Homo sapiens: one gene and its partners. The protein of the gene in region 3 purifies or fractionates together with the protein of the main gene of each other region. This does not show direct contact. Each region holds a gene or a part of one and is shown on either strand. Other genes may lie near its edges. The genes, in order: MTMR1, LMBR1, EFNB2, DNM3, DPH1, DENND6A and DIP2A.

The links.
Region 1: the proteins of EFNB2 (region 3) and MTMR1 purify together in Homo sapiens (affinity purification with mass spectrometry; 3 studies listed by BioGRID and IntAct, with this or other methods). This does not show direct contact.
Region 2: the proteins of EFNB2 (region 3) and LMBR1 purify together in Homo sapiens (affinity purification with mass spectrometry; 3 studies listed by BioGRID and IntAct, with this or other methods). This does not show direct contact.
Region 4: the proteins of EFNB2 (region 3) and DNM3 purify together in Homo sapiens (affinity purification with mass spectrometry; 3 studies listed by BioGRID and IntAct, with this or other methods). This does not show direct contact.
Region 5: the proteins of EFNB2 (region 3) and DPH1 purify together in Homo sapiens (affinity purification with mass spectrometry; 3 studies listed by BioGRID and IntAct, with this or other methods). This does not show direct contact.
Region 6: the proteins of EFNB2 (region 3) and DENND6A purify together in Homo sapiens (affinity purification with mass spectrometry; 3 studies listed by BioGRID and IntAct, with this or other methods). This does not show direct contact.
Region 7: the proteins of EFNB2 (region 3) and DIP2A purify together in Homo sapiens (affinity purification with mass spectrometry; 3 studies listed by BioGRID and IntAct, with this or other methods). This does not show direct contact.

Annotation. Positions count from the first base shown.
Region 1 is NC_000023.11:150,734,896-150,738,395, reverse strand, and holds part of MTMR1 (phosphatidylinositol-3-phosphate phosphatase MTMR1), read right to left. Parts: intron 2,933-3,500; coding exon of another isoform or gene 2,897-2,932; exon of another isoform or gene 2,695-2,896; intron 1,802-2,694; coding exon 1,616-1,801; intron 1,155-1,615; coding exon 948-1,154; intron 1-947. UniProt on the Homo sapiens protein: Lipid phosphatase that specifically dephosphorylates the D-3 position of phosphatidylinositol 3-phosphate, generating phosphatidylinositol. Could also dephosphorylate phosphatidylinositol 3,5-bisphosphate to produce phosphatidylinositol 5-phosphate.
Region 2 is NC_000007.14:156,725,684-156,729,183, forward strand, and holds part of LMBR1 (limb region 1 protein homolog), read right to left. Parts: intron 3,038-3,500; coding exon 2,961-3,037; intron 2,325-2,960; coding exon 2,247-2,324; intron 155-2,246; coding exon 81-154; intron 1-80. UniProt on the Homo sapiens protein: Putative membrane receptor.
Region 3 is NC_000013.11:106,515,163-106,518,662, reverse strand, and holds part of EFNB2 (ephrin-B2 isoform 1 precursor), read left to right. Parts: intron 1-3,500. UniProt on the Homo sapiens protein: Cell surface transmembrane ligand for Eph receptors, a family of receptor tyrosine kinases which are crucial for migration, repulsion and adhesion during neuronal, vascular and epithelial development.
Region 4 is NC_000001.11:172,404,498-172,407,997, forward strand, and holds part of DNM3 (dynamin-3), read left to right. Parts: exon of another isoform or gene 1-3,274; coding exon 3,275-3,344; 3' UTR 3,345-3,500. UniProt on the Homo sapiens protein: Microtubule-associated force-producing protein involved in producing microtubule bundles and able to bind and hydrolyze GTP. Most probably involved in vesicular trafficking processes, in particular endocytosis.
Region 5 is NC_000017.11:2,033,153-2,036,652, forward strand, and holds part of DPH1 (2-(3-amino-3-carboxypropyl)histidine synthase subunit 1), read left to right. Parts: intron 1-352; coding exon 353-505; intron 506-626; coding exon 627-690; intron 691-2,817; coding exon 2,818-2,939; intron 2,940-3,376; coding exon 3,377-3,500. UniProt on the Homo sapiens protein: Catalyzes the first step of diphthamide biosynthesis, a post-translational modification of histidine which occurs in elongation factor 2.
Region 6 is NC_000003.12:57,683,078-57,686,577, reverse strand, and holds part of DENND6A (protein DENND6A), read left to right. Parts: intron 1-3,500.
Region 7 is NC_000021.9:46,531,891-46,535,390, reverse strand, and holds part of DIP2A (disco-interacting protein 2 homolog A), read right to left. Parts: intron 3,265-3,500; coding exon 3,154-3,264; intron 1,868-3,153; coding exon 1,744-1,867; intron 1,388-1,743; coding exon 1,278-1,387; intron 807-1,277; coding exon 704-806; intron 1-703. UniProt on the Homo sapiens protein: Catalyzes the de novo synthesis of acetyl-CoA in vitro. Promotes acetylation of CTTN, possibly by providing the acetyl donor, ensuring correct dendritic spine morphology and synaptic transmission.

The DNA of each region.
Region 1 (3,500 bases), on a different chromosome or scaffold from region 3:
CAAGCATCCATCAGCAGATGAGCAGATAAACAACATGTGGTATATACACACAAGGGAATACTATTCAGCTATAAAAAATCATGAAAATTTGATATTTGTCACAACATGGATGAACCTTGAAAATATTATGCTTAGTGAAGTAACTCAGTCATGGGAGGACAAATACTGTAGGATTCCACTTATATGAAGTACCTAGAAAAGGCAAATGTATATGAAGACAGAAATATTAGTGGTTGTCAGGGGCTGGGGGAAGTGAGGAATGACTGTTTAATGTGTACAGCATTTCCTTTTGAGGTGAAGAGTACGGTTTTTGTTTTGTTTTGTTTTTTGAGACGGAGTTTTGCTCTGTTGCCCAGGCTGGAGTGCAGTGGCATGACCTCGGCTCACTGCAACCTCTGCCTCCCAGGTTCAAGCAATTATCCTGCCTCAGCCTACTCAGTAGCTGGGACTACAGGCGCCCGCTAACACATCTGGCTAATTTTTGTATTTTTAGTAGAGACGGGGTTTCACCATGTTGGCCAGGCTGGTCTCGAACTCCTGACCTCAGGTGATCTGCCTGTCTGGGCCTCCCAAAGAGCTGGGATTACAGGCCTGAGCCACCGCGCCTGGCCAGAGTATGTTTTCAAACTAGAGGTGATGGTTACATAATACTGTGAATTTACTAAAGGACACCGAATTGAGCATTTTAAATGGTTAATTCTATGTTATATGAATTTTACCTCAATTTTTTAAAAAGGCATAAATACACTAAAATAAAAACGCCCTATGAGGAACATACAATGCCTGAGGTCCATGTATTTTATTATGGCAATTCAGGTCTGATATGATACAGAAGAGAAAGCCTGCACGTGTGTGTGTATATATGCGCTTACGTGTGTCACACATGACGTTTACATCCATATGATACCGCAAAACAGTCCAGCATAAACCTCACTGTCTGAACTTACCAGTGCAAACCTGTGTCCAAAGCTTATCCACTCCTTTTCTACGAGAGTTTCAAATCCTTTAATGGTCCTGTAGTAACTGTCCAACATTAGCATAGCCAGAGATGTGAGCTGGGCTGTTCGGTCCCAACCGTCGCTGCAATGCACCACCACAGATGTTTTCCCAGATTCTATTTTATCAGCAATTCTTACTGCCCCAGCAAGCAGCATCTTCAGAAAAAAAAGGCACATTAGACCAGGCTACATTGAATTTCAATTAAATGTAAAACAATGTAAAATAATTCTGGGGAGAGCTTTGGAAGTTCTGGTCAATAAACCAAGCAAGAATGGCAGGCAATCAGCTGAGAATCACTAGGAAATATTAGCATCACATTAAAAAAATAAAAAGAAAAGAAAAAATCTTATACTGGAGAAAAACTACAGGAGTAAATATGGTTCCTTATTAAAGGGCCACGAAGTTCTTTAAAAGCCTGACCTAAGGCAAGCATTTTTCCCTTTTCACTATGTCACAAAAGCCCTCCACAAAGACCCCAGTCTGATGCTGTCCATGGAAACTATTGAATAAGAAAGTTCATGCACACAGCCAAGAGGCACTTGGAGATATACGTATTTATGGCACAGGCACAAAGAAGTCTTAACTGGAAAGCATATAAAGTGCTGGATCTCTTTACCCTTATATATTCCAGCCAATGCGTCCCATCCACATTGGAGAGCCACCGCGCCTCATCGATCGAAGGGTACACAATCTCTTTTAATTTGCGTAGTGACTCTCGCATGACATGAATGTTGTGGATCTCCAAGAACACAAGTTCTGCATTTGGGTAAGCACTTTCACTTTCATATCCTCCACCCTTTGTCTACGAAAAACAAAACAAATACATCACATTATCTGGAATTAACTTTTCTATTCTTTCTAGTGCTATGAGATACAGACCACTAAAGAAGCAACAAACTCATCTGCAAATAAACCTCCTATATCCTTGTATGAGTTTCCTAGGGCTGCTGGAAAAAGAACCACAAACTCAGTGGCTTAAAACAACAGAAGTTTATTCTCTCCTAGTTCTGGAGGCTGGAAGTCTGAATTCAAGGTATCGGCAGTGCCATGCTTCCTCCGAACACTCTAGGGGAGGATCCTTCCTTGGCTGCCCCAGGTTCCGATAGTCCCAGGTGTTCTTGGCTTATACACACATCATTCTGATCTCTGCCTCCATTTCCACCTGACCTTCTTTCCTTTGTCTGTGTCTGTCTCTTCTCCTCTTCTTCTAAGGACACAGTCATTTGGCTTAACCCCCACCCCCCAATTCAATATGACCACATCCTAACTTAATTACATTTACAAAGACCCTATTGTGAAATAAGGCCACATTTATAGGTACTTGGAGTTAGGACTGCAACATATCTCTGAGCTAACAGTGGGATGTGCTTAAGGAACTGAAAAGAACCTCACATAGCTGAGACATGGACCTGGAAGATGTGGCGAGACAGGAAGGAAAGGACCCGTGGGTGGAGGGCTTTGGAGACCCTGTTCAGGAACCTGGATATCACTGCCTTGCGGCTCTGAGGGATGTGCACAGAGTTGTCCACTGAGAAGATCACTCTGTACAACATGGTGACTACAGTCAATAACAATGTAGTCTGTATCTGAAAACTGCTGAGAGTAGATTTTAAGTGTTCTCACCACAAAAAATGGTGTGTTAATTAGCTTGATTTAGCCATTCCACAATGTGTACACAATCAAAATACCACGTTGTACACCATAAATATATACAATTCATTTATCAATTGAAATAGTAACAATAAGTTTTTTTTAAAAAAGAAGATCACTCTGGTCATAATGTGGAGATGAGATTGCAGGGTGTGAGGCAGAAGTCCAATTTCAAGGTTCCTGCTGTAGGTGAGGTAAGAGATGATGGGTCATCCAAAAACTAGAAGAGGAGGGCATACTTCCTAGTTCATTCCATGAGGCTAGCTGTATCCTGATACCAAAGCTAGACAAAGACATCACAAGAAGAGAAAACCACAGATTAACATCCCTTATGAAAATACATGCAAATATCCTCAACAAAATACTAGCAAACCCAATCCAAGAGTATATGAAGGGGACTGATCACATACCATGAACGGGTGGGATTTATCCCAGGAATGTAAGGAGGTTTTATTAGCTTCCTAAGGGTGCTATCACAAACTGGGGGACTTAAAACAACATAAAATTTATTCTCTCACAGTTCTGGAGGCTGAAAGTCCGAGATCAGGGTGCTGGCAGAGTTGGTTCCTTTAGGAGGGTATAGGGAAGAATCTGTTCCATGTCTCTCTCTTAGCTTCTGGTGGTTGCTGGAAGTCCTTGGCACTCCTCAGCTTCTAGCTGCATCATTTAAATCTCTGCCTCTATTGCCACATCGCCATCTTCCTTCTGTGTGTGCCTGTGTCTCTACATGGCTTTCTTATACGGACACTAGGCACTGGATTTAGGGCCAACCCTACTCCAAGATGGCTTCATCATAATTAATACATCTGCAAAGATCCTATTTCTAAATAAGGTCACATTCTGAGGTTCCA
Region 2 (3,500 bases), on a different chromosome or scaffold from region 3:
TCTTAGTAAATAACTACTGCCCCAGAAAACTTGGTATAAAATTTGTGGATAGGCTGAACGTTCAGTTAAAGAAAGGATACAAAATCAAAATGATTTCAAGCGCAGCTCCCACAAAACCAAACGTAGAAAGAGAGGCATTTCCTATTCCAGGCCCCTGGGGTGGGAGAAAGACACTTTTCAGAATTTGATGACACCATTATATTGGTTTCCCTAAAACAGCTGTTTCATAAAATAAGACAGTTGAAATTATGAATGTTTACTACTTTGAAATAACATCTAGACTTTCAAAGGCCAACAAGACATGACATTAGACTGATTTCATCAACAAATTCAGGCACCATGTTAACAATTTTAATAAGCTCAAGAAAAATTACTTATCTCAAATGTAATTTAAGTTACTTGTCAAGATGACATGATTATGCTTACTGTTATAAAATGGGGCAACTTGCCACTTGAGGAAAAAAATCCTGAATAGTTTTGGGAAAGAGTTTTTAAAAACACAATAGAAAAATAAGAATAGGATACATAGCTATCTGAATGCTTACACAATATACAAAGATTACACAATTCAAGTATGTCAAAATTAAGCTAAGAGTAGAAAGAGAGTAAATGTGCATATCCTGTTCCCATACCTGAAAGTTTCCTTTGCCCAAATTTTCCTTGGGAATTCAGAGTTACAAAGGATGTAACTGTTAACATAGATTTTTAAAAAAGTAATGCTATAAATTTTTTCCTAAACAATTATCCCTATCTCAAAAACTATCTTTACCTAGAACTTAAAAAAAAAACACAAAAAAGTTACTATTTTTATAATTAGATCTGAAAAAATCATTCCCTACTGAAGTATTTTCAAAGATTACTAATAAAAGAAACTATCTGAATGTTTTACTAGTCAGCACAGATTACATCTAATAGAAACACCAGGGATAATTAAGAATCTACAGTCAGCCCAATAAAAAATAACTTTTTGACAATCTTTTGAAGAAGAAATAAATGATGCTGGTAGAAAGTGATGGGGTTCAAGACACACTACTCCAAAATTTGGGACCTGGTATTTGAGAAAACCTAGGAAGGTCACACACTGATCTGTCTCCTTCTCCTGCGAAGCAGGCCATAAGACCCCCATCCAAGGGTGCCCCCCGCAACCCACCCAGAGGAGAAGCACATGTTTATCTCCGGAGACACGAGGACACCGAGAAGAATATGAACAGGCCTTGCTAAATCCCCCCGGTTTATAATCATTAGATCACACCCCTGTCTTCCAATCATACTTCCCACTACTGTCCACTCTTCAACAAACCAGAGCATAAAAGTACACAGCTTTTTCTGTTTCTTTGGTCTTCTTTATTTCTGAAGACCCCTGTGATATGTAAAACTTATCTTAAATAAGTTTGTCAGCTTTTCTCTTATTAATCTTTTGTTATAGGCATCTCAGCCATGAACCTTCCAATAGGTTAGAAAAAGGTATTACTTCTTCTCCCCTACAGAAGCTTATTGATCAACAGAGATAATACTTTGGAATTATGCTATCTCAAGAGAAGCCATGTAGGAAGGATTAAGAGTATCTAATTTTTTTACACAATTATACAGGGATCTCCTATGACGTACAAGTCATTCTCCACTAAGCACTAAGGGGGATGGGTACAAAAATATACTATAGGGCTTGGGACTTGTTTTGTTGGTATAGTAAAATGGGTTAAAAGTGACTAGGAAGTCAGTATAGTAAGCGACTTCCTGTTCTATCAGTGGGTTTGGGTATAAAACTAAAGAAAAAGATAAGACTGTACATGGCAAAGGGTAGTTTCTTGTCTGTCTGTAGGATGAGGCACCTGGAGCATGATGGTGGGCTTGTACTCATGGAGAAGAGGCTGTAAGTGAATACAACAATGGCAATAACAGATGGCACAAGGTCCTGGAAAGACTCAGGTGGGGGGATCTGAATCAAGACTATGGCTAAAGGAATTTCATATAGCTAAATGAATTTCAGTAAAATCAAGATAAACTCTGATAAGAAATCTAAAAGGAAATTCCAACACTTGAAAAAAGGCCCTGTCAATCCAAAGTAAAAAATTAGAAACAAAAATCACAGTTTATATTTTAAAGGCTCTTTGCATAAAGAAATTCATACAACTTGAAGTATATACATGCACAAAGGTGAATGTTTTCATTTGCTTACTTGAAATACTCAGGGTATAGACATAGAATACTTTTGCAAAAGAAAGACATTTTAAAGGATTTTACTTTACCCTTGTTCCTTTTGGCATTGCTGTTTCATCAACCAATAGGCAAAGAATATTACAAGCCACCAAGAGGACCGAGATGGACTACAAGACAAACAGCAAACTGTCAGCTCTCAAGATTTTTCACCAATACAAAATATTAAAATCTAGGTAACCAAATACACGTTTCAGAATAGAGGGAAAGCAGTCAAGACCAAAACGCTATATATAAAACTAAAGTAATCAGACTACAAACAAGAACTGAAGAAATTCTAAAAGATTCTGCAAGTTATTGTCATTTCAAAGCTTGTGACAAAAGCTGGTAGTATATAGATCCTTTTACTAAGTGATCTCACCAATTGGAAACACACAACTCCACAGACTTAAAAAAGTGGTAAAATATTATCAGAACTAACTTCATAATGTAATTTTCATATTTTATCACAGAATTTAAAGCAGGTTATCTGCAACACCTTGTTTTCTTAATTTTCAATGAAAACAAAGACTGAATTTCCTGCTTTCATGAAGAAACAGATAATCTTCAGAATTTTTTTTAAATTGCCATTAATTTCCATTTTTGCTTTATTGGATTTTCATAAATAAAGGCATAGATGGATTTTAATCCTGTTGATAGAAAACTAGTTTATGAAAAACCATTTAGCTGAGGGAGCTGCCATACTCAAATGCTGAAGTAAATAAAATATAATTTGCTTTTATTTAACTAGGCAAATAAATTCTTACTGTCTCAATAAGAAGGAGAACCATAACAGCGGGATACACCAAATTTCTTTCCCATGCTGAAGCCTTTTTTCGCCTCTCTATTAAAAGGAAAAACAAAATAAAACAAAGTTTTCTCCAAATTAACATTTTCCTTCCATAATGCTATAATCTGTTTTATACATAATTTCTTTTTAAAAAACATAAATTACTTTTAATTTTCCTCCATAAACTAAAAAAACTACAGATAGGGCCTTGCTCTGTCACCCAGGCTAGAGCACAATGGTATAGCCGCAGCTCACTGCAACCTCCTAGGCTCAAGTGATCCTCCCATCTCAACCACCCAAGTAGCTGGGACTACAGATACATGCCACCATGCCTGGCTAATTTTTTTATTTATTTTTTGTGGAGACAGGTTCTTGCTATGTTGCCCAGGCTGGTCTTGAACTCCTGGGCTCAAACGATCCTCCCCGCTCAGCTTCCTAACATGGTGAGATTACAGGCACGAACTACGATACCCAGACAAAAATCAGAGTTTTAAAACCAGTTTGCTACATTAAACAC
Region 3 (3,500 bases):
GTGCAGAAATAGATCAGGCGACCACTGCCTCCGTCCATTTCCCAGGCACCCTGTGAGACCCGATAATGCAATACAGGTCAGCAGAAAAGTCCAGACTTGACATCCCAACGTGCCATGGTCTGGTCTGTGAATGAAAATCACATGAGGTGACCTCTGAACTCTAAGTGGCTGGTTTATGTTTTCAGTGTATTAGGCCCGTGTTTTAAACAAGCATGTGCTCGTAGTGTAGGTTAAAACTTTCTGTTGTCTTCATTAATTATGCTGTGTTCTAGTCTATTAATATTAAAGAATATTGTGTTGCATAATGACTAATTTTTTTATTTTTTGGAGACGGAGTCTTGCTCTGTCACCCAGGCTGGAGTGCAGTAGTGCGATCTCGGCTCACTGCAACCTCCGCCTCTCGGATTCAAGCAATTCTCTGTCTCAGCCTCCGAGTAACTAGGACTACAGGCGCCCGCCACCATGCCCAGCTAAGTGTTGTATTTTTAATAGAGACGGGGTTTTACCATCTTGGCCAGGCTGGTCTTGAACTCCTGACCTCGTGATCCACCCGCCTCAGCCTCCCAAAGTGCTGGGATTATAGGCGTGAGCCACCACGCCTGGCAACATAAGGACTATTTTTTAAAGTTTTTACAATTATGACTGTGAAGTTGAAATGTCTAAATTATTAGAGATCCAGTTTAGATTACTAAATATTTATGTCTAATTGAGATGATTAGACTTAGCCAAAGTATCCATGTAGAAGTATTAGAGTCTAGATTGGTGAAAAACTTGAAAAAGCTTGGCTTAAGTTCAATAGGTAATCCAAGAGTAAAAACAGATTCCAATATCAGATCTTTTCACCATAGTCATGTTAAGTTTGGAAGCCCTACTTGAGTGTTTCCAGTTTTTTCCACATTATATTGTGTCTATATTTGATTCAAAGGCAGGGCATCTATTGTCTTGCTTAGGACTGATTCACTGGGAAAAGCCACTGGAGTTGCCTATTTCCACTCAGTATGCCTCACTCTTAGAGTAGCTTCCCATGGTTCCCAGGCAGGCCCTCCAGTGAGAATGCACCAAGCCACACGCCATGGCCTGGGAAGCAGTCCTGAACCTGGAGATTGTCTTGATGGAAAGGAAGAGGCAGCCTTCCCCTCCCAGGAAGATAGTAGAGAGCCTGCTCTGACTTCGCTCAGGGATGGAACTGGTCTGGCTCAGTTCTCTCTCCTGTGTGGGACATGAATCACTCTTGGTGGTCTTTGCTTTTTATTTGGGCTTAAAATCAGCAGACTTTATTAAATGACACCTCTCTCTAACCACTCTCTGTCTGGGCGAAGTTTAACAAGAACAGCCTCCCCCCATGTGGTATGGGTTGTAACTGTGGCGGTTTCCCTCTGCTGTTTTTGGTTACAAGATGAACATTATCTGAACACACAGAAAGAAATCTGTATTTGGCATCCATAATGGAAAGTCAGTTTAGTAATTTAAACTTAGCCAGTTATCATCATCATAATTCTTTTTAACACTTTCAAAGTCAGCATAGGAGAAGTGTATTGTTGAATATTACAAAATATTTAGGGCATAGATAGATGTGCTGTGTAGTTTGATTTGTTAATGTGTCTAAGCAATCAAAGCAACAGAATTCAAATATAAACCCCATCACTTCCAAAATAGGAACTCTGTTTACTGACTTGATTATAACATATGGAACTCAATTGTTTTCCATTAAAAAATGATACTATTAGGAAACTCACCCCATTTTCTTTTCATATATATTCTGCTATTTGCATAATTGTCTGGAGTCCATATGTAATATTAAATGTAAAACACAAATGCCATGTAGCTGGTCTGTTTCTTCCTCACCTTTTGGTTCCTGGCCTCCTGGGGAAGGGTTGCACATCTGAGCCGTGGTCTCAGATGACTGCCTCGGAAGAAGCCTCTTCCCTTCAGGCACCACTGATGTGTGCTTGGTGTGGAGCTAGACTTTCCCTGGCTCTCCATGTGACGCTCACATGTGCGTGTCTTGATTTCCCTTAACTTCATGGCTTATCTATGAACAGCTTGATTTGGGGGAAAAAAATGTGTTTCCCAATGCTGGAGTTATAATTGAATGTGCTGCAGTCAAAACTGAAATGTGTGCAGAGAAAGGGGGCTTTTCCTGTCATGCTCATTGGGCACCAGTGTGTCTTCACCTGTTTTGTGTGTTAGGTCCATGCGTCATGCTGAAATGAAGAACATGGGATGTATGGGGCTTTGGACAGTGCTGAGCCAAAAGCAAGTGCTCAAAAGCAGCTGTGTTTGTATTATTAGTGGTTCTGGAGGTGGCTGATTGCCTTGCATTTTAAGTAGAGAGGGATTGTAGAAGACTGCCAATACTTAGAACTTTTTCCAGAGAGGAAGGGTCAGAAACTGCATCTGCAGGGCTCCTTGCTCTCCAGAAATGCCAGTGTGCCTGGGAGGGCATCTTCAGAAATCCAGTCTCTCCTCCTCAGTGTGTCCTGTACCGACTCAGTGGTTCTGTCTTCAGAATTCCTATCATGTCTGTGATCTGCAAATAGTGGTATTTAATTTGACTTCAATTTGTATAAATGTTAGCTTCTATTTGTTCATTCCTATTTTTTGTTCAATTAATACATTATTTATTGAGCATCTACTCTGTGTCAGCCCCTTGGGTGTTTAATACTGAATTAGTCACATGTGGGACTTGCCTGCCCTCAGGGAGCTAGACTATAAATTCCTAATGATCAGTGGTCTCCACTTTTCTGTCACTCATAATGTCTGGCACAACATAGGTTACTTGAGTTGTTACACTCACAGTACTGTTGTTTGCTGCCATGGTGCTTTAGGAAGTGTGAGAGTTCCCGGGAGGCAGAGTCAATAATGCAGACTACACGTAGTGAAAACATGGCCAGGAGAGCTGTAGTTCAGGCTCTCAGCTCAACTGCACTCTGTCCACTGAGAAGCCATAATTTCTTCACTTAAAGTGACTGTGCGCTATGGCTGTTTATATATACGCTTAAAAAGTAAAAGCTGCTAAACCACTCAAGGATTGGGGCCTTTTGTATTGATTTAATTAAAGGAACAATCATTGTTTTAATGAGCTCTAGAAACAATTACTTTTGAAGAGCCGAGGATCAAATTCTTGCCTCACGTTTTGCCACAGTGTGTTCTGAAAGGTGAATTAATGCTTTTGGAATCATCAGGAATAGTGAGCTTTGTCACGATTTACTTTTTACAAGCGTATCTAATATGCATATTGAAATGTGAGCCTCCCCACCACACTTCCGCTTTGATAAGCATCCCCCGGATTGCCGTCACTGACCATTATAGATTTTTAACAAAGTTGGACAGTACACACTGAATGAAAACTTTACATCAAGGAAGGCCTGGCGTGTTTGTAAAATGAATTAAAAGGCTCATTAAATGATTTATATGACTTACGCCTTCTGAAAATATGGCCTCAAACACAGAGATCCCCAAAGCCACACCGACCCCTGCGTCCCATGTTCTCGACCTCA
Region 4 (3,500 bases), on a different chromosome or scaffold from region 3:
TTGTGCTCTTGTCCCAGCCACATGGTCCAAGGATTAAAGCAGATATTAATGAGAATTTACTGTGCCATAAGAGTACTTAAGTCTTTCTATTCTCTATCCACACCATTGAATTTTTCCCTTCAATCGCCATCATTTAAGTTCCAATTTCACTCATTATAGACCTACATTCCTACTTCCAAGTTTTATATGCAGCAGTTACAATCATGTTTGCCATCACTTTGACCACATTATTGTATTTTCAGACTTCCCAGAGTGTATTCTCAGACTCCGAATTACAAAATTTTGCCCCACTTTTCCACTTAAAATGAAGTACTATAATAAAGCTACTTTCATATTTGTTTTATTCCACTCATCTTCCATTCTGAATAGATGCTGAGCTCTTTAAAGTCATGTAGCATGAAGCAGTCCACATATTAGATGCTCAATAAATAATCTATGCAATATATAACTGGAAGTCTTGACATAGATCATCTAGTCTGATTGTACAATTTGGCAACTGGAGCTAGAATCCACATTTTCTAACTTCTGATCCAGGACTCTTTCTATGTAAACATAGTATCTCAAATATAAGCTTCTGATAAATGCCTTAAAAGTGTAGCATCCTTGGCCTCGCTAGACCTACTCACCTTGATCTAGCCTAAACTCTAGCCTGGCTAAATATCTTGTTTAGGCACTTTTCAGTCATTTCTTCATTTGTCCATTATTCAACAAATACTTAACCACTGCTTTCTAATCACATTGTACCAAATGCTGAATACACATAATAAATGCAAAATATGTGGTTTCTTTTCTCAAGGAATTTTGAATCTATTTGGGGGACACTGGTAATAATCTAGTAAATAAATACATAATCACAAGTAGGGTTACGTGCTACGAGAGACACAAACATGAAGTCATAGGGGAAGGCAGAGGAAGTCAGGAAAACTATGGGATGGTCCAGAAGGACTGAGGAATAACAGTTAAGCCAAGAACAAAAGGATCAAGAGAAGTCAGTTTCATTCCTTTCTCTCTTGGCTACAAGCCTTGATCCAAGCTATCACATATTCATGAAACGATTTCCAATCCATCATGCCATGCTGTATCCTACTTCTCACTGAATTTGTAGTCTAAAATCAACTTTTTATTTAATGAAATCACCTAATTAATTCCATTATCAAAACTTCTGGTAGAATTTCCCTCCTTAAAGCTCAAATTCTGGCCAGTTCTCTCCTCCCACCAGCCAACTGGTTAATTGCTAAGAATACATTTCCATAGGTTACATGATTATTTGACAAACTCCCTGAGGGCAGGGGGCTTATTATTTGGTATTTATTCCAAATATCTACTAAAGAACTGAGCAGTTAGATACTTTAGAGTCACCAAGGATCTCAATCCTACATGTCACTTTAGCTACTTTTTTTTTTTTGCCATGGCCATGATTTACTCACAAATATCCTTGTATTTATAAGACCAATGAATATCACAAGCATTCATTAGTTATTTCTTGATTCTAGGAGGAACTTTCATTCATTCAGTTATCAAACATTCAGTGACTGAATGACAAGCAGTGAGCTAGATACCACAGTTACATGAAGATGATTAAGAGACAGCTCATTTCTCATCAGTGAAGATAACATATAAGCCTAATTAGAGTTCAGTGTGATGACTAATAATAGAGATTTGTTGAGATGCTATACAAACAACTGTATCAGGAGAGGGGAAGGCAGGTCAGGGAAGGCTTCACTGAAGTAAGTCTTAAATGATTAGTTAGTAGTCTCAGAAGATGACCAAAATGACATTGAGAATGTAATTGCATGTAACACCATGCTAAACACTGTATGAAACAAGTTAAGTGGGTGTGACCTGCGCCCTTCAGAAACTTCCTATCAAAGAAGAAAATTATGCAGATTCAAGATTCAGGACATAAGTTAAACATATATGGCCATTTTAAATGAAAATAAGGCTGGGTACCATGGCTCACACCTGTAATTCCAGTGCTTTGTACCTCCCCAAAGAAAGATTTCCTTTGAAGCCTCTTACACATTTTTCAAGTGCATGAGGTAAAAGGAATTCTACTAATATCTATGAGTTTGTGCCTAAATAGTTAATATTTTCACCATTAATCAACAATATCTCTCCTGCTTTGATTTTTCCTTGATCGTGTAATTTAATTTTATAGTTCCATGATTTTTCAACAACTATTTTTTTCAAAACTATTTTTCAAAACTATTTTTCATAATAGTTTTCTTAAATTTTTCTAACTTCACTTCTTCATACCTGAGAAAGGACATTCAATTTGATCAATATAGAGTTTCTAATACAGAAGAAAAATTTATGACTATAATTCCAGAAGGAGTCTTTCTGAAAAAATCAGTTGCAGAGTTTTATCAAAAAGAAACATTTCAATTTGTAGACTTTGTCAAATTTGGGGGGGTAAAAAAATGACTACCCAAGATACCATATATGAAGTCAAGTACACAAATACACTAAAAAAACTTATTAATATATTTAGGAAATAAATGTAGAAGCTTGAGGAATAAATAAGTAATAAATAATATTACTTGGTAATGTTGAGACTCTCAAATACAGTAATATTTCATTATCTAAAGTACGTTTGCTTAGTAAACTCAGCTACCAGAAACATCATTACCAACTAGAAAGTGAGTAATACTACTAATACCAATACTAAAGTCTTTAAGACCCAAAATAGGAACTAGAGCTCCTGCAATTTAAACAGGCACTCAACACTGAGCCTATTTACACTTGCTACAGAGAACTCTAAAGACTTGCTTTTCTGATTTTTAGTGCTCTGTAAATTACAAGCATAATATAGAACAAATTGGAGAAAGTCAAAAAGGCAATGAGAAGTGATAATAATATCCTGAAAGAAAAAGGAAAATTATATGTGAGAAATAAAAATTCAAAAGCCATCATTGTCTGAAACAGTATACCTTATTAGTTCCTGAGTTCATTCTATGTAATTATTATATTCTATTGGCTAAGATATGTGCAGTACGTTTCAGATGGCTTTCAAATAGTTTCATATTTCTTATTAGTATTGGAAGGAATGACTTCAGTTTTGAGAAAGATTTGCATATGAAAAAAGACGTAATTTTCATTAAAACTACTAGATAAATGAAAGGTGACAATGTTAAAATCATTACAGATCATAACCACTTCTGCTGGCCTGTATGTGCATGAGCATGTGTGTAATGGCTCTTTCTCAGTGTCCTTGGAACAATGTTCTGCTAGATATTCTACTTGTTTCTTTACCTTTCTCTTTTTCTCTTTCTAGCCGGAGACCACCCCCATCACCAACTCGTCCCACTATAATCCGCCCACTAGAATCCTCCCTGTTAGACTAAACGAAGTGTCTGGCATGGCAATTAATCACTAATGAATTATGCGAAAGCAACATATTTGATAACCGTTGCAGTAAATCATGAGTAGTCGCATGTGTGGACATCAGTAGGCAAGTAACCAGTTTTACTAATGCATTCATCGCTCATCTTCATTGCTCA
Region 5 (3,500 bases), on a different chromosome or scaffold from region 3:
AATTAGTTGGCATTTTTCACCTGGTGGGGGGGTGGGTGTCCTGGTTTCTGAAAAACAACTTAGGGATATATGTCAAGGTGTTATGTGTAGTTTCTATAGGGAACCAGGCATCTCGTGACTCTGACTTGGGTGACTGTTGTTTATTATCTTCTTGTTTAGCAAGTTATTTAATTCCCTAATTGCTGGTTGTAGGGCTAGCTAAGATGCCTGGGATTTTTCTTGAGATGACTCAAAATTTTTATTTCTATGCTTGAGCGGGGGCACCGGCAGGCCCTGAAAAGGGATCCCTATTCCATCTCAATCTGGCTTCAGCCAAAGACAGACACCAACTCAGGCCTTATATCCATTCTAGGTCGGGCCCCTCGGGGCCGCGTGGCCAATCAGATCCCCCCTGAGATCCTGAAGAACCCTCAGCTGCAGGCAGCAATCCGGGTCCTGCCTTCCAACTACAACTTTGAGATCCCCAAGACCATCTGGAGGATCCAACAAGCCCAGGCCAAGAAGGGTGAGCCTGTGATCATTGAGCTGGGGTTGGGGTGGAGAGGTTGCCTGGCCCAGATGGGACAGTGTCCCCCTTGCAGCCCCTTCCTAGCCCTCCACCTCTCATGTCTCTGCTCGTCTTGCAGTGGCCTTGCAAATGCCGGAAGGCCTCCTCCTCTTTGCCTGTACCATTGTGGATATCTTGGAAAGGTGAGGCTTGGGGCACTGGAGAGGAGGGTGAGCCAGGCTTCCCCCACCCCCTATGCTCATTACCCGGGTGGGTAAAGCCCTGGTGGCGGGCATTTTTTCCTTCTGAACCTCCACCTTCCCCCTTTCCCTCCCACAACCATACACACACTCAGGGAAAACCCAAAACAAATCTCCCAGCTTGCTGAGAGCCCTGCTTGTCCCTGCAAATCCCCCCTCCCCTAAACATTTGGGACAGAGAAAGAAATCAATCCCAGTGTCTTCAAAGCTAGACCCAGAGCAGGTGGTAGGACCTGGGGAGGACCCTAAGAATTCTCCAAGCTGCCCCTGAAATGCGCTGAGTGATCAGTGGGAGGTCTGCCGGTCGGGGGCGGTGGGGGGCACCTGTTCCTCGGGCACATTTGGGGAAGTAGGGCAAGGATGGGTTTGGAGTGGGAGGTGCCTGGGAGAAGGTATTCAGTTCCTCTACATCCTACCCCTGTCACTCTAAGTTTCTGCAATACAATGAGCCATCCTTGGTGGGGAGGGTGAGAGCTCAGCCATCTGGAACCAGCACAGGAACAGGGGAGGGGAACGAAGAAAGGGGAGGTCATCTCATGCTGGGAACCTCCCACTCCCCTGCTGCCCCATCGCCCTCCCCTGCTCCTCCCTCCCCCTCCCCTTCTCCCCCATCCCCCTCCCCTGCTCCCCCATCCCCTGCTGCCCCATCCCCCTCCCCTGCTGCCACCCTCCCTCCCCTGCTCCCCCAAACCTCTCTTCTCCCCCCTTCCCCTCCCCTGCTCCCCCTCTCTCCCCTCCCCTTCCCCCTCCCCTGCTCCCCCTCCCCTCCCCTGCTCCCCATCCCCCTCCCCAGTTTCCCCATCCCCTCCCCTGCTGCCCCATTCCCCTCCCCTACTCCCCCTTCCCCCTCCCCTGCTCCCCCCTCCCCTGCTGCCCCCTCCCCTCCTCCCCCACTCCCCTGCTGCCCCATCCCCCTCCCCTGCTGCTGCCCCATCCCCCTCCCCTGCTGCTGCCCTCCCTCCCCTGCTGCCCCATCTTGTTGCCACAGACTCACTTCCCTGCTCCCACCGTCTTGCCCCTTGGGGATGCTCTCTGGGGCTCAGGCCAATTTGCATACATTTTAATCTATAAAAAATTAAGTGCTGTGGCTGACTTAGACGCCTGGGCTGCATTCTAAGGAGGTGAATAATCTGCTTCTGGGCACAGCCTGATTTGGGGAAGGGGGTGGAGGAGGGGGTGACTAGCAGGAGCTCAACTCTTCCACTGCCACACCCCCAGGGGAAGGATGGGGGGACCCCAGTCACTGAGCCAGGCTCCACGCCCCAAGTGTGAGTCTCTTTCAAGGAAGAGGGGGTTCTCCTCCATTCCTAGGGTGAGTTCAGGGGTACAAGGTCTTCCCCACCCACCCCCTCCCCCAGTGATTCAGGCCTGGCAGCAGTTCCCACGGCAGTGTTCTGGCCAGAGCCTCCTCTTCCTGATGCAGGAGGCGTGTAGGTGGTGCCATGTGCTATGGGGGAGCTGTGCCTGGGTCCCCCCATCCTGGGCACCAAGGGCCCTGCCTGCGGTGGGGAGGTAGTGGGGGTCCGGACGAGAGGGCCCTGCCTGTGGTGGGGAGGTAGTGGGGGTCCGGGTGAGGGGGCCCTGCCTGTGGTGGGGAGGGGGTGGGGGCCCTGCCTGTGGTGGGGAGGGAGTGGGGGTCCCGGCAAGAGGGAGGCTGTGTGTATTCATACAGCCACGCCCATGCCCACCACAGCACTCAGCGCGGGAGTGAGGACCTTTGGGTGTGTGTGCGTGCTCACGGCTCTGGGTGGGTGAGTCAGGGCATGGGGCGTCTGTGTTTTGACCCCACGTGTGCCGGAGTGAGGGTTGGGGTCCCTCCTGCAGCCTGAGCCTGGGTAGAGGAATGAGGGTCCTCACGCAGCAACAGTTCCAGGAGCGGCTGCCAGGCTGGGGCAGGCGGCAGCTGTGCCCCTCCTAATCTTTGTTGGCAGAAGTGGCAGCTGCCATCCCGAGGAACTGGGAGAGGTAGGGAGAGAGGAGCTGGGCCCTGAGACACCCTCCCAGGGTTGGGTCTCTCCTACCTCAGTCCCTGTGTCCCTGTCCCACCGTTCCCCGCCCCTGTGCCCGCAGGTTCACGGAGGCCGAAGTGATGGTGATGGGTGACGTGACCTACGGGGCTTGCTGTGTGGATGACTTCACAGCGAGGGCCCTGGGAGCTGACTTCTTGGTGCACTACGGCCACAGTTGCCTGAGTATGGTGGGGCCAGGACACCTGGACGGTGGCGGGGCTGGCAGGGAGGCAGGCTGCACATTCATCTTCCCCATGGCAGTGCCTTCTTGTCCTGCTTGGAGACACAAGGTCCCTCCTGGTTTCTGGGGTGGCCTCTGCCTTCCCGCTCTGCAGGTAGATCTTTCCTTTGGATTTGGTTGCCTTGGCAACGGTGCTCTGTCCCAGATGCAGGTGTTTGAAAGGCTGTTGGTTGTAGAGCAGGCTGGGCCCCGGCCGGGTGACAGAGAAGTCTGATTGAGAAGGAGCTTCTAGGGGATCTGTGACCCCCCTCTTCTCCTACCCTGTCCTTTTACCCCCAGGCTGAAGCCACTGCGCCTGGCTGCTCAGAGACCTGAGCCTGGCCGGGCCCTCTGCTGCTCCTGCCTTCCCAAACAGCCCCTGAACTCCTCCCTCCCACAGTTCCCATGGACACCTCGGCCCAAGACTTCCGGGTGCTGTACGTCTTTGTGGACATCCGGATAGACACTACACACCTCCTGGACTCTCTCCGCCTCACCTTTCCCCCAGCCACTGCCCTTGCCCT
Region 6 (3,500 bases), on a different chromosome or scaffold from region 3:
CACAGAGACACAAAGTGAACACATTGTTGGAAAAATGATGCTGATAGACTTGCTTAATGTAGGCTTGCCACAAACCTGTAATTTGTAGAAACTGGTAACTGCAAAGCACAATAAAATGATGCACAATAAAACAAGGTATGCCTATATTAATAAAAGGAGAAGGAAGAATGGTATTGGAAGGCAACAAGCATTTACTGCCTTACCTGAGAGCAGTTATAATCTTATGTAATCAAAGATTTATTTTGAAAGATTTCTAAGCTTGGGTTTTATGATATAAACTTTAGTAACTTTGAGCTGTTTGAGAGCCAAGGGTATATGTGCCTGAAAATTCTACACCATTATGTAACTTTGAAATAAAGGATTATGTTCTGTTTTACCTGGGATATGGAAATATCTGTTAATGCTTATTGAAAATGAGGCTAAACATTTATATCTTGGTAAATTTAGGCTATTTTTGTATTATTGGGATTCTATTTATTTTGTTCTTCTTATCATAAGAATCATCTGGGGCATTTGTTACATATGAGGATTCTGGGGCTCACCCATCTGCTTAATCAGAATCAGTTCCAGAGGATCATTATGTGTAGGCATGTTTGGAGTATGTTTTTTAATTTTCTCTTTATATAAACTTTTCTGTTTTTCTTGTAAACCAGCTGTTGTCAAAATGTGGTCTGAGGACTTCTGGGCATCTCTGAGACCGTTTCAGGGGATTTATAGGATGTTTTCAAACTATGTATGGCTTTTCTTCATGTTCTTCAACCAGAACAACATATTGCAATAGAATGAACATAGAATGATTCTGCCAAGAGCAAACATTAAAGAAAAACAAATTTTTTTTTAAAAAAAAAGAATGAATGCTGAAGCAGATATGAGAATCTAGTTATTTCTGTTAAATCAGACATTAAAGATATTTGCAAACATGTAAACAATGCCATCTTAGTAAGGTTTTTGTTTTGTTTAGGAATACAGGTTGTGTGTTCCTAATCTAAACATTCAAAATCTGAGACGCTCCAAAACCTGAAACTTTCTGAGTACTGACATGATGCTTTTTAAAGGAAATGCTCATTGGAGCATTTTGGATTTCAGGTTTTTGGATTTGGGATGTCCAACTGAGTAAGTATAATTCAAATATTCTAGAATCTGAAAAGATCTGAGATCCAAAACACTTCTGATCCCACCAAGCATTTTGGATAAGGAATACTCAACCTGAATATAGTTACTTTTCATAAAAATTGAATATGTTAATGAGTAATAGGTTATTATTTTAAAATAAATAAACAATTTTTTTTAATGATACTTTTAGTTTCTACAGTGGTGAATGTTGATAGATATAACTCATATAAACAAGAATTCTAGGCTGGACGTGGTGGCTCACGCCTGTAATCCCAGCACTTTGGGAGGCAGAGGCAGGCAGATCTGCTGAGGTCAGGAGTTCGAGACTAGCTTGGCCAACGTGGTGAAACCCATCTCTACTAAAAATACAAAAAAAAAAAAAAATTAGCCAGGCATGGTGGCGCATACCTGTAATCCCAGCTACTCTGGAGGCTGAGGCAGGAGGATCACTTGAACCAGGGAGGCGGAGGTTGCAGTGAGCCGAGACTGTGCCATTGCACTCCAGGTGTGTGCCACCATGCCTGATTAAATTGTTTTATTTTTGTGTTGCCCAGTGTGATCTTGAACTCCTGGACTCAAGGGAACCTCCTGCCTCCACCTCCCAAAGTGTTGAGATCCCAGGCATGAGCCATTGTACCCAGCCTCATTTATTCCTTTCCGTCACTAATTATTAAGTAATATTTGGACTTTATTTATTTATTTGAGACAGGGTCATGCTGTGTCACCAGGCTACAGTGCACTGCAGCCTGGACCTCCCAGGCTCAAGCAATTCTCTCACCTCAGCCTGTCAAGTAGCTGGACTACAGGTGTGTACCAACATGCCTGGCTACTTTTTTGTTTTTTTGTAGAAACAGGGTTTTGCTGTGTTGCCCAGACTGGTCTTGAACTCCTGGCCTCAAGTGATCTGCCTGCCTCAGCCTCCCACAGTCCACCTGCCTTAGCCTTCCAAAGTGCTGGGATTATAGGCATGAGCCACCATGCCTGGCTTTAGACTCTTTTCTTGAAACAGAGTCTCGCTTTGTCACCCAGGCTAGAGTGCAGTGGCACGATCTCAGCTCACCGCAACCTCTGATTCCCAAGTTCCAGCGATTCTCCTGCCTCAGCCTCCTAAGTAGCTGGGATTACAGGCACGTGCCACCGCACCCAGCTAATTTTTGTATTTTTAGTAGAGACGACGGGGTTTCACCATGTTGGTCAGGCCGGTCTCAAACTCCTGACCTCGTGATCTGCCCACCTTGGCCTCCCAAGGTGCTGGGATTACAGGCATGGGCCACCGTGCCTGGCCCATAAACTCTTTTTTTTTTTTTTTTTTTGAGACGGAGTCTCACTCTGTCACCCAGGCTGGAGTGCAGTGGCACAATCTTGGCTCGCTGCAACCTCCACCTTCTGGGTTCAAGCAATTCTCTGCCTCAGCCTCCTGAGTAGCTGGGATTACAGGTGCCCACCACCACACCGGGCTAATTTTTGTATTTTTAGTAGAGATGGGGTTTCACCATCTTGGCTAGACTGGTCTTGAACTCCTGACCTTGTGATCCACCCGCTGCGGCCTCCCAAAGTGCTGAAATTACAGGCATGAGCTAAACACTTTTTAAATAAGGGAACTGGAACTTAAAGAGGTAACTTGCCCCATATCACTTGCTTAATAAGCCAGGATTTGAACCCTGGTCCTTTTGATTCTGAAGCCTAATTTCCCCCCACTATACTGTGTTGTTTACTATTTAGGGAAACTGAAGCAAAGAAGATGTGAAATGCTAGCGGTAGCTTGAACTAAAATTCTTAAATTCTTGGTAGTAATAGTTTACCTCATTTCTCAAAGTGTTCCTGTTTACATGCTAATACTCAGTGTAATAATAGTACCCAGGGCTATTTTCTGAGTTGTATGAACTGCTTTTAGCATTTTTGTGATCCTTTAGTTGGCAAAATGCTTTACCGTCCTGTGGAATGCACAGTAGATACTTGCTTCTGTTTGGACAAAAGACCAGCGTGACCTATGTCAATGACATAAAGTTGGATTTCCTGAAGGTAGGGTTTCTAACTGATAATAGTTTATAGCCATGGGCAGATGAAGTGAGATGATAATAGTTCTCATTTCTAGTGTATTGTGAGGATTAATTGATACAATACAGTGCCTGGCACAAGGAAAACACTTGATAAAGTTAGCAATTGTAATTATTTATTGAGTTTTTCTGAAATAATGAAATAATTACTCTTTTGGTCTAGTTTATTTGAATTCTATCTGTATTACTCATTTAGTGAATTCCTACCTAACCTTAAGCGTCCTTTGTAAGTAATACAGGATCAGTATGAGGGTAGCATCATTAAATTTTTGTTGGTACCTATTATAATAGGAGCACTGGGACCATTTGCATAGGCCATAATAAGTACCT
Region 7 (3,500 bases), on a different chromosome or scaffold from region 3:
AGTAGTTTTGTTCAATTCTAGTATTACAATGTAAGAAAACTACTGAGTCCATTTTTACAGTTTTTAAAATTGTCACAGTGTACCCCATAAATATATACAATTAGTACTTATCAATTAAATAATATTAATTTAAAGATATCTCAAGTTAAGTATCTGACATTTGAAGTAAATCAGGTGCTGACTATACTTTATCAACAGATCATCTATAACCATAAAGATTCTACTTATATATTTATATCCATGACAGCTGAGGTCAAAACTACAGTCATAGATAAAGTAATAGAAAACTAAAAGTGTTTTCCTCTTTTTGAATGAAAAATGCCCTGACCCTCAGTATGTCACAGAGTAAGCCAGCCCCCCAGGGCAGGCCTGTGAACCCAGCACTGTGTATAAATCAATCAGTGGGATATAGGTTCCATGTTCCATAAAATCAACATCCATGTGCATTTACTGAAAACAACCCTGATGGGGTTGTCTGGACTCTGCTAAGAGACACCGTGTGCCCTCTTGGCCAGCACAACCACAGAGACCCTGTAAGCATGCTAAAGACAGTGCATCTCCCTACCTGGCATGACCCGGATTAATGGGCAAAGGCACTACCCAGGGGTGGTTTTGACAGGTGCAGTGACAGTCACATGATTAGGTACGTCAGGTATCTGTGTGAGGCTGGAGGGGCCACCGCCCCACCCCCGAGAGCCCTTACCTTCTGAGTACCCGCACGCCTGGGTCAGAGCCCGGCACTGTGCCAGCAGGGATGCGTGGGACACTGTGACCCCCACCGTACTGCCTTCTTTGCTGGTTTTATACTGAAAGATTTCAAGGAAAAAAACATGATGTGGTATTTCTAGAGGTGACAACAGACAGAATGGAAACTGGTAGAATCTTCAAAAGAAGAAGTGGTCAGTGTCTCTCCTCTAACCATCGGCCTCTAACCAGCAGCCCAGGTACATGGCAAAACCCTGGCCGCTGAGGGGATGCTTCAGTGGAAGTTGTGGCTCCTCTTGGGCAGGTGCCCGAGGGTAATGGTGCGCCATGGGCTCCCTCATAACTGTCTGCATCCCCAGGGAGCCAGTTAGGAGAGAATTAGATGAGAGAGAAACCTGGAAGGATCTGAGCAAGGATTTATATGACACTCTGTATTTCCAGGGCAGAGATAAAACAAGAACTCTTAGGCCGAAACTTAACAAAAAAGAATAGCAACTTACATTCTTATGAAAAGCAAGACTTAAGCCTGTGGGACATGTTTTTACATTCTCTAAGTTAGGAACAGTCATTACCTCAATGTAGGCAGTCCCAGTCCCTGTGTCCTGGGCCAGAGGGTGCCAGTCCTTTGGGGGCTTGGCTAGATGCTTCCCATCAATCACTAGCCAGGAGAGCGGGGGCCAACCTGTGACACACAGACAGGACACAGAACAGCAAGCAGTCAGAGGCATCTGCTCCCCACACTCGAAGCCTGCGCCTCCAACATGCAGCACTAGCTACTGAGCGAATAAGGAGTGCAAGTTTTAGTCTCATTTCATTTTATATAATTTAAAAAGGTACATCCGGCCAGTGGCTACCACATTAGACAGTACAGGTCGAGACATGAAGCCAGATGAAAACCGAGATTCACCAAGGACTCGAACAAGGGATCACTTTTGCTGAAGACCCAGACACCTCTGTCATGTTTAATTTCTGGAACACCATGCATTTAACACAGACCACAGTCAGAACACTGACTCCCCTTCCCTTGGGAGGCCTCACCTTTGAAAGCTGCCACCTCTCCTGTCTGTGCCTTGGGGAGGCCTTTCTGACAAGCGTCTGTGGTCAGGGCCAAGAAGACTCCACAGCTGCCCAGCAGAAACCCAACCTGCTGGCTGCCTGCATCCTGCAGAAAGCAGAGTGACCGTGTGGGGTGGGGTGCTCACAGCAGCCACAGCCCCAGACCCTTGGTGCTCCAGGCCATGCACAGAGAACAGATCTTTTTTTCATCCCTCATAAAACTTCCAGAATAATTCAGTCCCATTATTGATATATATGATCTTTTCACGGAAATAGTTCATGAAAATGTGACAACTATGTTTAAATTTAAAAGATAATTTTGGTTTGTATTTGTGTTGAAATATAAAGTTTAATGGGCTAATTTCTCAAAGTTTATTCTTACAAATGACATTTAGAAGCATTTTTAATAAACTCCAAAGTTAATGGCATTGAAATTTCTATTGAATCATGTTTGAAATTTACAAATTAATCTAGAGAGGCCTGGTCACCAACGATATTAAATTATTTCCACACAGAAACACATTTCCTTGTAGCCAAGTCTTCTGTGTCCCTCAGCAGTATTCTGTCATTTTCTTCATATAAATTTGACAAATCTCTAGTTTTACTCCTAAGAACCACTGCATTCAAATACCTGCCCATCACATATTATGCTTTGAGATACACTAGTTTGATTTGCAAATTTTACTTTTGGGATTCTTGAATATTTCTGGATAATGCTCCTGTTAACAACTGCCTGAATTCTGGGACAGGATGACAGAAAACTGATTTTCTCAAATTCATGCCTTGTCTATTTTTTTTCAGTAATCATATTATTGATAGTTATATCAAAAATGTTACAGATACCTAGATCAGCAAGACCCCACATTAATAATTTATCAGCAACAGAAACTGCCTACGGTCATATAAGTGAACAGAAATGCAAGATAATTTCCATCTCGTTTATTCAAAACTGCCACTGAGAAGTGAGCTATATCACTGTAATGATATATTTATCCCTAAGAAATAATAATTATTTTCTATAAACATATGGTTTTGAGGAAAAGTTGAACAAAATCTTATTGAATCATAATTCTATTCATTAGAGGAAAAAATGGCTATCATTTCTGTTGGGAAATTCATGTAGATGATAGAACAGCTCCACCTAATAAGAGTGTGGTGTGGGAGCATCACCAGCAAAACGGTTCTCAGTGCCCCTCTCATTAACAAGAAGAGAGGCAGGCAAAACGGCATCTGATTTCTCTTGAGTCCTGGCCAGCCTGTTGACTACTAGCTTTCTCTCCTCTGTCAAAACAGCTGCTTGCTGCCTGCCCACATGAGTGAAAAGGAAGTAAGATACTGCTGGTATCAAGTTCAGAAGCGAACCACACGGGACCTGAGCCATGGGTTTGCTACCTTTCTTGTTAATGGCACTTCTATGGGGACAGGAACCAGCTCTGCCAGGAGACACCCATAAAATGCAACCATGAACATCACAGGGTCACTATTCGGAAACACGAGCGCCACCTACAACAGGACAAAGAAATGAATATTCCAAATTTCCAATTTTTACAATATCTAGTTAAATTAAAAGCTAGTTATAAATAAAATTTTTGTAAGCCCCAAATATTGTAATAATTGTGCTTGAAACCATAAGGGACAAGTCCAAATAGTATTTAACTGAGTAGAGACAGTTGACTCAGGGCCTTTGAGAACACGCAACAATGAATAACCAATAAGTGCTGACTTTGTAAGACAAAATT